Homo sapiens: one gene and its partners. The protein of the gene in region 3 interacts with the protein of the main gene of each other region in a biochemical or structural test. Each region holds a gene or a part of one and is shown on either strand. Other genes may lie near its edges.

Region 1 (3,702 bases), on a different chromosome or scaffold from region 3:
GAATGATATTTTAGTATTTTCTTTGCCTGACAGAAGTCAAAACAATCTGATCAAGCATATTTATTTTCCAGTAACACAAAAACAAAACAAAACAAAACTCAATGTTGATAGAAACAACTTTCAAAACAGGACAGACTGTAGAACTAGAAAAAGTCGAGGTGTTTCTATAATCTATACTACACTGACATAAAATTCAAAGGTGTTAAAAGTAATTATCAGACTATTTTACCATTATTAGTAATAACAAAAAAGGCAAATTGTAAAAATATTTTTATTTTATTTTACGTTTAAGCTCTGTTAGATTTGATGTAAACATAAAAATATTTTTTAAGGGCCAGGCACAGTGGCTCGTGCCTGTAATCCCAGCACTTTGGGAGGCCGAGGCGGGCGGATCATGAGGTCAGGAGATCGAGACCATCCTGGCTAACATGGCAAAACTCCGTCTCTACTAAAAATACAAAAAAAAAAAAAAAATTAGCTGGGCATGGTGGCGGGCGCCTGTAGTCCCAGCTACTCTGGAGGCTGAGGCAGGAGAATAGCATGAACCCAGGAGGCAGAGCTTGCAGTGAGCCGAGATCACACCACCGCACTCCAGCCTGGGCGACAAAGCGAGACTCCATCTCAAAAAAAACAAAAAAACTCTCTCTATATATATATATGTATGTAAATAAAACATTCAAAAACTGAAACTATAGTAAAAATCTAATCCAATGACATAATTGGGTAATTCAACTAGATTTGCAAGTATCAGATAATGACAGTATATTATGACATTAGAAAACAATATTAAATTCTAGACCAAGATACAATCCAGAGCATACACTACTGTGGGAAGAGGGTAGAAACTGCCTCATAAGGGGAAGGAAAAAAAACACCATACTATATCCCGCTTTATACAAACTAAATATTAGTTGAAATCTTATCAATCATCAAAAGTTACTAGAATGAACCACAGCAGCTAAAAAAGTTTCATTTAGTCTCTATAAAGATCACAAATCTTTAATGTGGTTTCAAAGTAAAGACATATCACTTTAAAGGAAATTAAATCGTGGTAGTACCTAATTGAAACAGCAATAAAAAATTATAAACAGTGTTTGGTTCAATGAGGTACTTCAGGTCACACTTTTAAAAGAATCCAAAGACTAAGAACAACATTTGATAAATAAAAGATGGTGCATCAAGGAAGGAAAATATGAAATAATATATGGTGATTTTAAATTGGAAAATCTATATTTTTATCAATATAAAATGTAATAATTCTTTTGATATAATAGCAATTAATTTTTAGTGATTTTAAAAACAGAATTACTTCACAGTAATTATAAATTTAAGAACCAGTGGAGAGCATCACATAAACAATAATTTGCTGCAACACAAAATCAATTAAATATTAATTGTTCTCCAAGTAAGGAACTACACACCAATTCTACATACTGGTGTTAGCATTATAAGATAATCTTTGATTTAATTTTTCTTAGACTCATTCTCAGCTGAAATGTGAACATACGGAGGAGAAGCTGGTAAAATTTCCTATGTCTATTTGATTTACTGAGCACGAAAAAACTGAAAGCTAAGAGAAGTGGAGCTGAGAAAGATCTAGAAAATGTAGAGCTTTGAGAAAAACTTTTTTAACAATATATATCCAAGCATGATTCAATAATAAGTAAATGTATCACAATGTATAAGAAGTTTGAGAAAAACATAAAGTTTCATTATATATTGCTACATTAATATACAAATATAGAGTAATCCTCAACCAATAATTCAATTTTTAAAACATTTCTTAATAAACAAAATTGAATAGGTTCCAAAATTTCCTTATTTGCTAGTTATGTAGAACTTAGAAAACAGGCACAACCATCCCACCACACTGCCTCAAGTGGACTAACACTAATTTTTTATTTTTCCCTCCACTGTCACTGGAAATGAGTTAGTTCTGCCCCCAACATCTCTACTACCCCCAACATGCCTCCACTCCCAGCTCAGTCTCCTTCAAAAAATTCAATGGTAATGGTTTCCAGTTAGGACGACAGGCTATTTATTATCGTACTTATTATACTTAAAACATTGGTCATCTATCATCTCCTTTCTTTTTACTTTTTGAGGGTTCCAGGTATTAACTCTACAGTTTCTTTTTCTGGTCTGTCCTCTGTTGCCTGATTCGCACTACTCTCCTCCCTTGACCTATTGCTTTGCTGGTCTGAGAGCTTCTCTCCAATCCTAGACTCCCTAAGGCAAACTTTGAAGATTTCGCCGGGCGCGGTGGCTCACGCCTGTAATCCCAGCACTTTGGGAGGCCGAGGCGGGCGGATCACGAAGTCAGGAGATCGAGACCATGCTGGCTAACATGGTGAAACCCTGTCTCTACTAAAAATACAAAAACAAAATTAGCCGGGCGTGGTGGCAGGCGCCTGTAGTCCCAGCTACTCGGGAGGCTGAGGCGGGAGAATGGCGTGAACCCGGGAGGCGGAGCTTGCAGTGAGCCGAGATTGCGCCACTGCACTCCAGCCTGGGTGACAGAGTGAGACTCCGCCTCAAAAAAAAAAAAAAAAAAAAAAAAACTTTGAAGATTTCAAGGGTTGGACTTGCTATGAAAGACAATCAAGTGAAGACTAATGATCCACCTCCTCACCTCCCTCACCCTACGCCCATATTCTTTCCACAGAGACAAAATTGCTTTTACCAGTGACATCAAGAACTATTCAAGATTCACCTACATAGTAATTATCCCAGGAATTTCACTTGCAGCTACTACTGTACTGAGTCTCCCAATTTAGCGAAGAAATGAAATTAAGTAAAAATGTGGCCAAGCGCAGTGACTCACGCCTGTAATCCCAGCACTTTGGGAGGCCAAGGCAGGCGGATCACGAGGTCAAGAGATTGAGACCATCCTGGCCAACAGATCGAGACCATCCTGGCCAACATGGTGAAACCCCGTCTCTACTAAAAATACAAAAATTAGCTGGGTGTGGCGGTGCACGCCTGTAATCCCAGCTACTCGGGAAGCTGAGGCAGGAGAATCGCTTGAACCCGGGAGGTGGAGGTTGCAGTGAGCCGAGATCGCGCCACTGCACTCCAACCTGGCAACAGAGGGAGACTCCGTCTCAAAAAAAAAAAAAAAAAAGATGTACTCTACTTTTTCTCAGACTCCAAGAGTACCATACTTTGTCCTAAAGTAATACAGCATCTGAGTATGCGGTCTGGGTTACAGCAAGGTCCTGGACTGAACATTTAAAACAAGAATAATGACAACAATAATACACACACACATATTCTTAATAAAATGTTCTTTAATGTGATATATATATGTGTGTGTGTAAAACGTCTGGTGAAAAAAGAAAAAAGCAGAAACTGAAGATTTCTAACTGAAAAAATTCTTCTGATCATCCATGTAAAAACTTCCACAAGTAGTCAACAATAAAATGTTACTTAAATATTACTAATGAGACATTCATGAATTTGAATAAACAAAATGCTTCATGCTTGTAAAGAACACAATATATAACTTTAAAAATCCCATTTATCTAAAAATATACACACTATCTACAATACAGCAGAAAAACATTTCCTTTTTCATATATTAAAACTAAATGTTACCAACTAATGTGACAATTAGAATTTTCAATCCTATTTAAAACTTTGGGCCCGTAAAGGAAAATGAACACCACAACAGTTAAAATGTAGATTTTCGGGGCGGGAAAC
Region 2 (4,136 bases), on a different chromosome or scaffold from region 3:
AGCGGGCAACCAGGGTAATGATCCCCACCCCCATCAAGTTCTCCCAAACCTCACTGGCTGAAGAGTTCAGCTCAGCAAAGCAAATCCTCTCCATCTGCTTGCAGCCTCAGTGCCCCGCCCCCTCCTGTGTCCCTCCGCCTCCCTTGCCTGCCCCGCCACTGCCCGCCCAGCTCTGCCTTTTGTCTACCTCTGGGGCCTTTTCCTGAGGACTCTCTCTCCTGGGCATCCCTCCCAGCTTCCCCTTCAGCTTCTAAGGTCTTTGTTTCTCTCCATCTGTGTCTCCCTAATCCTCAGGCCCCTACTTGGCCAAACACTACACCTTAGCACATTCCCAGCACCCCTCCCACTTTCTGCCCTCCCCGCCCCAAAACAGTTCAAGTAGTTTCCTCTATCCCTGCCTCCCATGGTGTATGCATGGGTGTAGTGGAAGTAGCCATTTACGGTGGAAATGTAGGTGAAGTAGAAGAGAAAACAAGGAGGGGAAGAGTAGCAGGCGTGGGAAACAAGGAGAGAGCAACAAACAAGGTCTGTGACTGGGGTGGGATAGGAATGGAGAAGAGGGAGGGACCAGTCTAGGAGACCCTCCCACCAGCCAGCCCCTCTCCTTCACCCCAAGATCCTAGCAGGCATAGGTTGACGTCCTGTGCTGATATGGCACATCTGAGTCCCTTCTGGACACTACACTAGCCTCCCAATTCAGATTCCAGTGCTCTCCCCACCCACTCCTTGGCAGGCACAGTGTAACACGGTAGGTGTCCTTGTGTGATCTGATCTGGTGTTGGTGTGCCACGCTGTGTATCTGATTCCATGTGAATGGAAGTCTCCTGTGTGAGATCACCCTGGGCGGGGGGGTCCTTTCTGGAACAGGATAGGGGATAGGAGAGGAGCCTGGTGCAGAACGGCTGCCCTGGGGGGCACTCAATTCCCTTCTCCCTTTAAGGGTAGCTCAGAACTCTTCACTCTCACTCCAGAGAGGGTGCCCTTCCACCCCACCGTGAGGTCTTCATTTCTGTGCCACAAGGTCAGTATGGCATTTCCACTACCTAGGGGGCTCTTCCCTACGTCCTGGGCCAGGAGAGCAAAGAGCTGGTCAGCTTCTCTCTGGGGGCCCCAGCACCAAAAGTCTGTATGGCCCTGGCCTGACTTTCCCATCTGGGCTGATGCAGGGAGGGAGAATACCAGAGACCAAAGTTCAAGGGGCCGGGCCCTCTCCTCCCCTGTTCTGTCCTTCTGGTCACTGTCCTTCCATGATCCCTTTTCCAGGAGAATATGTGACCTGGGCCCTAGGTCTTCTGCTAAGCAGCCCTCTGGCCTCATTTACTCAACACAGGCACACACACCGACACCGGCCGACAGCCATGCACAGACACAGTTAGAGAGGAGCACCCACGCGATGGGAGACACATGGCCCAGCGTTGGGCCATTCTGGTCCACACTCTTGAGACAGCACGGGAGCACAGCGGAGCCACTCAGCACTCACAAAGCGACAACATGGCTCCAGAACATCTACGTCTCCACATGCACACATGTAACTGACACGGGCAGTCCCACACACTCGCTGGATTTCAGACATACAAAGACACCTACTCAGTGAAGTCACATGCCACCGCACAGCCCGCCGGAGGGCCACACGGGCGCACCTTGGCAGATCGCACACAGCCCCTCTCCCACCGCCGTTAATCCCATTGGCTCCCCCCGTTTCACTCCGCGGGCCTCCGGGAGACCTGTGTGACGGCCCCTCAGCAACCACCGCGCCCCCCCCCCCCGCCATACACATACACACACAAGATAGGGCTCCCAGCCCCCAAACCCCGGCCGCGTTAATTTCCCAAAGCGACACTCCGCAGGTTCCCTGGGGAAATTAGAGGAAGGCTGGAAGAGAGGCAAGGGCGAACGGATGGGGCCGGGGAAGGGAGCTGATGAGGGCGAGGACAGCTCGACGCAATGCCATGCAATGCCCAGCCTCGGCTTTTTCGAAGGCTAGTCCTGCCCCGCTTCTAATTTTTAGGAATTCGAGATTCTTTCAGTGTGTATGCGGGAAGGGGACGATGAAGAGAAAAGAAAGCTGAAAGCCAGCTGAGGGGAGGGAACGAGAAAACAGAGGCGGCCGCCGTCCGGGGAGAGAAGCGAGCGACGGTCGGGCCGCGGGGAGGGGCCCGGAGGAGCAGCCTCCAGGGAGAGTCCTGTTTACACTTGAGGATCTCAAACCGCTTAGCGAGGAAAGGTGAGGTCAGGTTGCAAGCAAAGACGCGGCAGCGGGGCGCAGGGAGGGGGCGCGGCAAAGTGAGACTCGGGGCGTTCGGACGGGAAGCCGGACGGGATCCGGTCAGCGAGGTGGGGCCGAAGAGGGGTGGGGACGGCTGCGGGGGACGGCGCGACCGGAGCGGCGAGGCCGGGCGCCGTGGTGCGCGCAGGGCAGCTAGAGGGCGCTGGCGCTAGCCGCGCGGAGCCGGGAAAGGAGCTCCGGGCCGGGGAGCGGTGGGAGGGCGCAGTGGGGTCCGCCAGGACCCGGGCGCAAGGGCCGCGCGGGGCCGTCGGGGGCGGCCTGGGGCGAAGGACCGCGCCGGGCCCCAGGGCTGCGCGAGGTCCGGGCCGCCGCCGCCCCCGCCCGTACCTTGGCGCTCAACTCGGCCGCTGCCTCCACGCTTTTCTCCGACATGGTGCCGGGGCCGGGGCCGGGGCTGGCGGGGAGCCGGGGTCCCGGGGCCGAGACGGAGGGGCCCTGGACGGCGGAGGGTGGCCGCGGCCGGAACCTGGCGCGGTGGCGGCGGCGGCGGCGACAGCGGCAGCGGCGGCCGCTCGGCAAGCTGGGTCTCTGGAAGAGGCGGCAGAGGCGCGCGGGGTGGGGCGGGGGTGGGTCTGGAGCGGAGACCCGCAGGGCTGCGGCCGTCCGGAGGGCGGGCGGAAGGGCGGTGCAGGCGGTGGCCGGCGCGCTCGGCCGCGGTAGCTCGATCCCGGGCTCGCCGCCCCCGCACCAGCAGAGCTGCCGCCGACCAGCCGCTGCCGCCCCCGGGAAGGGAACCCGCTTATAAGGCGGCGCTGCCCGACGGGAGGGGCTTCCCAGGGGTGGGGCAGGCGGGAGCGGGGAGGAGAGGAGAGGGGAGGGGGATGAAAGAGGAGGTTGGAGAGGTGGGGATAGGAGGATGAAAGCGAGGGGAGGGAGAGCTAGGGAGTCGGGAGGGAGGACGAGACCAGGAGGGGGAAATGGAGAGACTGACGGCCGCGGAGAAAGAGTGGGGCGAGGAGGTGGGAAGGGGTGGGGTTCCTGCGGGGAGGCACCTTTCCAAATCCCAACCTACTGCCTGCGAATGTGGAGTCTGGCTTTTGGGGGCGGACTGGAGAGGTGGCCAGAATCCTACTGACCCCAAAAAAAGCCCTGGGATTTTGCCAAGGGGTGGGGTGAGGGGAGCAGATGGGAAGATAGGGCAGGTATTTGAGAAACCAAAAGCTTAAAGAAGAGGAAGAGGGTTCGGGCGCTCCTTCCACACCACGCCGGATTTCCCCCTCTCATCCTCCATCCACATTCTCTGGATGGCCTTGAGGAGGGATGGGAGGGCAGAAAGGGCGGCCCAGCCTTCTGTCCCGCCAGATTGACACTTGTGACCCTTGCCGGGTGCCTCCCTTCCTGGCCCCGTGCTGTGAGCCGGGGGGAGTCAGGCCCCCTGGTCTCCTTTGCTGTCTTCCAGCTCTCTTCCATCTTCTACCTCTCTTATTCGCCCGTCTCACCTCACTTTTATTCGCCTGGTCCTTCTATTTCTCTTCATCCGTCCTCAGTCATCTGTACCTAGACCCCTCCTTCACAACCAATTATAACTCGAATCGCTCCCATTCTTCTCTCACCTCTTCTCCACTCCTCACTGACTCTCTTCTGCCCTTCCACCTCTGGTCTCTTTCCCTATCTTTCCCAGACAACCCTGCTCTTGTCTTATCTGAGTCAGGCACCTGGCCCTCTATTCTTGGCTGGCTTTCCTCAACTCCTCTTTCTGTCCTCATTTTTTACATTTTCCATCCTTCAGCTTTTCTCATTCCTCTGCTGCCATCTTCCCTAGCCTTTCTGGGTTATATTTGCCTCCTTTGCAAATATAATACAGGTCCAGGTCTGGAGTTCCAGCCCCACCCTATTCCACACATCCTCA
Region 3 (4,145 bases):
AAAACCACACCCGCCAATTAGCTGCCTCTATATTCAGCCACCCTGCAAAGCATCCTAACTAGGGTGGCTTTCATAAATAAATATGCCCCTACATTCTTTGTAGCCAAAGGTTATAAATCCCTTGCAAGGGTGGGTGGACCACAGTAAAGAGATCTGGGAGCATATTTTTACATTGGCAAGAAAAGCAAAATGTCACTCAACTAAATTTAAGATTGTTCACATACATCTGCTACCACCAGAATGTTATTTAAAAAAGAAAAGAAAGAAAGAAAAAGAAATGTGAATATCTAACAGTTTAGCTCTGAACATTTTTCTACTGTTCAGGTGACTGTTTCAATAATGATTGAAAGGCTATCAAAACAGAAGCAAACATGTGCTTGTAGTTTGTCATACAGCAACAATTTCTGCTTAAATAAATACATAGACAACAATATCTCAACTACAGAAAAATGTGTGTGCTGGATAATAGTTATAAATATATCACTAAAATGTTTGGAAAAAAAGCAGCAAATATAAAAGTTACACTTCTGACAATATCACAAATGAGTCACATCCTTCAGAGAGACAGAGACAAAGATCAAATAAATTTCTGAATCAGAATAAAATCTGACACCATTTCACAGCAAGCAGATGCGTTTTATGACATGAGTCTTGGATTCTTCTGGATTAGAATGTACAATTTAATAAACCAGAATGATTTGTTCAAAGTTCATCAGGGGCTGCAAATGGATACAGTTTGCCATAAGGGAACAATTTAAGTTTAAAATCACAGAGGTACATGCAATGGTGTGTGAAAAGTCCTACTTACCTATTAAACCAAAGCAGAATAATAAAATTTTGGGAAATGAAACTTAAAAAAACTGAAATCATAAATCTACCTTTCATTCTTTTCAAAAACTGAGGCCTTTTAAATACTGACATCAATTATGGAAATTATCAGTGGATCTATTGAGCAAAGATGACAAAAATGTATACTAAGGTCTCCTTTATATAAAATTGTTACATCCTCTAAAATTATGCACTTCATACACTGTCAAAATGTAAGTACCATTTATCCCAAAATCAAATGCCAAATTACTGAAGAGTTAAGAAGCAACAGTAATTCACTTGGAAATTATCCATAACAGAAAGAATCCATTATATTTGAATTGGAGGTCAAGCTGAGTAAATTGCATTTACTACTGGTTTTTAAATATGAAGAAAACTACTAAAGGAAATAAATTTTATAATACAATTATATAAAAATATATTTTATTAGGCTTTAAAATAAATGATTCTGCATAAATAAATGTTCCAAACTAAGTTTAATTGGCCTGAGAAAAGAATCATGATTTGTTAAAGTTACTTTTTAATGACAATATGTTCTCTTAGAAAAAAATTTGAATAGCTAATCAAAATATCTGTTGGGGTCATTCTGGGTAGTAATTCAAAGTATTATTTCTTCGTTGGTTGTGTCATATAATAATATCATAGAACTACAAATTTGATAGTCTAAAAGATGGAGTTAAAAGATGTTTTTGAAGAAACCATTTTTTTTATTTCTGGTTTGAAGATTTAAATTGAACATTTTGAAACTAATTATTTTCAATAATGCTAAAAGTACTATTTCAATAGCCCATATATAATTTTATAAAATTGTCTGTTATTTCTACTTATAATAAGCTGCCACTCTATACATTTCATACCAATAAATTTGAGATTTTTTAAGTCATCAAATATCTCCCATGTATTGACATTAGAATACCTAGACATTTGTTCTTTTGGTAACTGAAAGTATAATCTAAATTGAAAAAGTTTAACACTGATCTTCCCAAACTGTACAAATCAGGAACTACTTTCCAAAGAGAGTCTTGTGCATACAAAGGGCAACAGATTGTACATTTGGAACTATTTACATGTGTATATTAAAATGCTATTTCCAAAGTCCACTGCAATGCAATTAGTTTTGGTGCACTACAAAAAAGAACACTCAAACTTAGATTCTCAAAATTCAAAGCACCAAATATCCACATACTAACTATGCAATGAGAAAGTATTTTTTTCAAATGAACATTCCAATATACCTTAAATGCTTAATTCTGAATTTAAAAATGTAATGAAGGCCATCAGCTTAAATTTAAAGTTACTTAGTTCGACTTTGAAGTTTTCTCTCTTCATTTGTAAAAATATGATACACCTAAAATAGATGGTAGACATTTGTAAAACTTACACTGTCAGAGTGCTTGCCCTGGTCACAGTCCCACGTTGTAACACGCTGCCCGGACCTCTCCATGGTGCTGAAGAGTTACTCTTGCCCATTTGAGAGGGAAGAGTTGTTTATTCAAATTGGCTTTGAAAGAAATCCGTAAAGGGTCACCTGGGTTAGCTAGTAAGGTTGTCTAAAAAATTTCTATAACACACACTAAATAAGTGATGCTTTTGCCCTTCGGTTATCAACCACCATGCTCAAGCAGCTCAAAGTAGATTTTGGAGCAGAAATCTTCAAGTATTGGCAAAAAAGAGCGAGAGCTTTTTGGGAGATGAAGTTTGCTGATTTTTGCCAGTGTTCTTCAAATTGATAAAACACACAGAGAAGACAAGGCTACTCGGAGAACAGAGGATTCCAGAAAAGTTCTTGATCTTAATGCAGAAAAGAAGATCCCATTAGTCCAAAGCAGCCGATTCACTTCATGCTATCATCTGATCTACTTTTCGATTAAAAATAATACAATAAAATAGAGTTAAGAATTCCACAAGGCACTGCACACACCATGTAAACAGGTCTGCCTCATTCTCGCCCCAGCCTCGGTCTGCTGAAGATTATCACAGCAGAAATCAGGCTCTGTGGCTTTCACAGATTATCTCTTTCTGAGGCTGAAACGTATAAAGAGCCACATGACACCCAATGATGTCATCTCTAAAGCAGGTCACAGTTGCTGCTGTATATAGATAAAGTCCTTCTAGTGAAGTATTTAGCATAGTGATTTTCTTGAAAATCTACTTATATTAAATAGCATGGTCTTCTATCAAAATACTTAACCCTATCGATACAGTGCCATGAAGAGAAAATCAATTTGCTGCTCATATGTGAGATGAAGCCTCCCCTTTAAGCTAAGATCAGCTTCTGGTACTGCTTTAAAAAATGAATAACTGCCATTAATTTGTGGTGAATATAGTGAAGAAGGGCTTTTCCCTGGAGAAGCTGCTGTGGGAACTAGAGGCTCTCTAAGGATATAGAATCTACTTCTAAACACCTCTCAGAATATTTAGCATGTCCAAAAATTATTTTTTAATTCAATCCATAAAGATTGCAAAATAAAAATTAAGGAAACCATCTTCAACTTCTAACAACAGTTTATGTAACAAAATTAAAAAGTTATATAAACATAAAAACATCTTACTATCTCTGAAACGATTGGAGTATATTTTCAAGTGTTGGTTAAAGAAAAACGTTCTTTAACTCACTATTTTTAGATGTTTTTCAGTTCTGAATAAAGTAAAAATAGAAAATTAGCTATATTATTACTAATCTGCACACCTAACTGGTAATTCATAGTACACATATTCTTTTAAAGAATGTTTAAATGAGCAATGTCCATGATCATTCTTTGCAACATATTTTTCTCTTTCTATTTAGTCATATGCCATAATTTATGATTTTCAGCCATAATTGTCATTTATGCCAGTTAATAAATTATCTAATCCCCTTTCATGCCAACTAAACAATTCTTATAGCCCAAGTGAAGAATAACTTGAAACTAATCTAATTAGTGCTTATTAAATGTATTCCCTCCCTTAAGGCCAAATGGATCAAACAAAAGCAGCTTTCCTTTAAGAGCACAGTATTCTGTCATATTTTTGAGAAAAAACCATAAATCTGAGGAGAAAACAATTTTCCACACAACCAGTGCCACTGAACAAATTCTATTAAAGCAATGGTGATTGTTCTGGCATCTCATCAGGAAAATATTGCCTCACCAGCTTCTCACCGCGTATCTAAAATATCCAAATAAAAATTGAGAATGCTAAAATATCCAAATAAAATATCCAAATAAAAATTTATTTGGATAAATTTTTATCCAAATAAATTTATGCTAAATATCCAAATAAAAATTGAGAAAAATATCCAAATAAAATTTGGAATATTTTATTCCAAAGGCTAAAAT

What was found.
Region 1: the proteins of SCHIP1 (region 3) and ZC3H13 form a complex in vitro, tested with the Homo sapiens proteins (one large-scale study listed by BioGRID).
Region 2: the proteins of SCHIP1 (region 3) and PTMS form a complex in vitro, tested with the Homo sapiens proteins (one large-scale study listed by BioGRID).

Annotation. Positions count from the first base shown.
Region 1 is NC_000013.11:46,046,045-46,049,746, forward strand, and holds part of ZC3H13 (zinc finger CCCH domain-containing protein 13), read right to left. Parts: intron 1-3,702. UniProt on the Homo sapiens protein: Associated component of the WMM complex, a complex that mediates N6-methyladenosine (m6A) methylation of RNAs, a modification that plays a role in the efficiency of mRNA splicing and RNA processing.
Region 2 is NC_000012.12:6,765,229-6,769,364, reverse strand, and holds the start of PTMS (parathymosin), read right to left. Parts: upstream 3,003-4,136; 5' UTR 2,660-3,002; coding exon 2,615-2,659; intron 1-2,614.
Region 3 is NC_000003.12:159,271,948-159,276,092, reverse strand, and holds the start of SCHIP1 (schwannomin-interacting protein 1), read right to left. Parts: upstream 2,850-4,145; 5' UTR 2,273-2,849; coding exon 2,210-2,272; intron 1-2,209.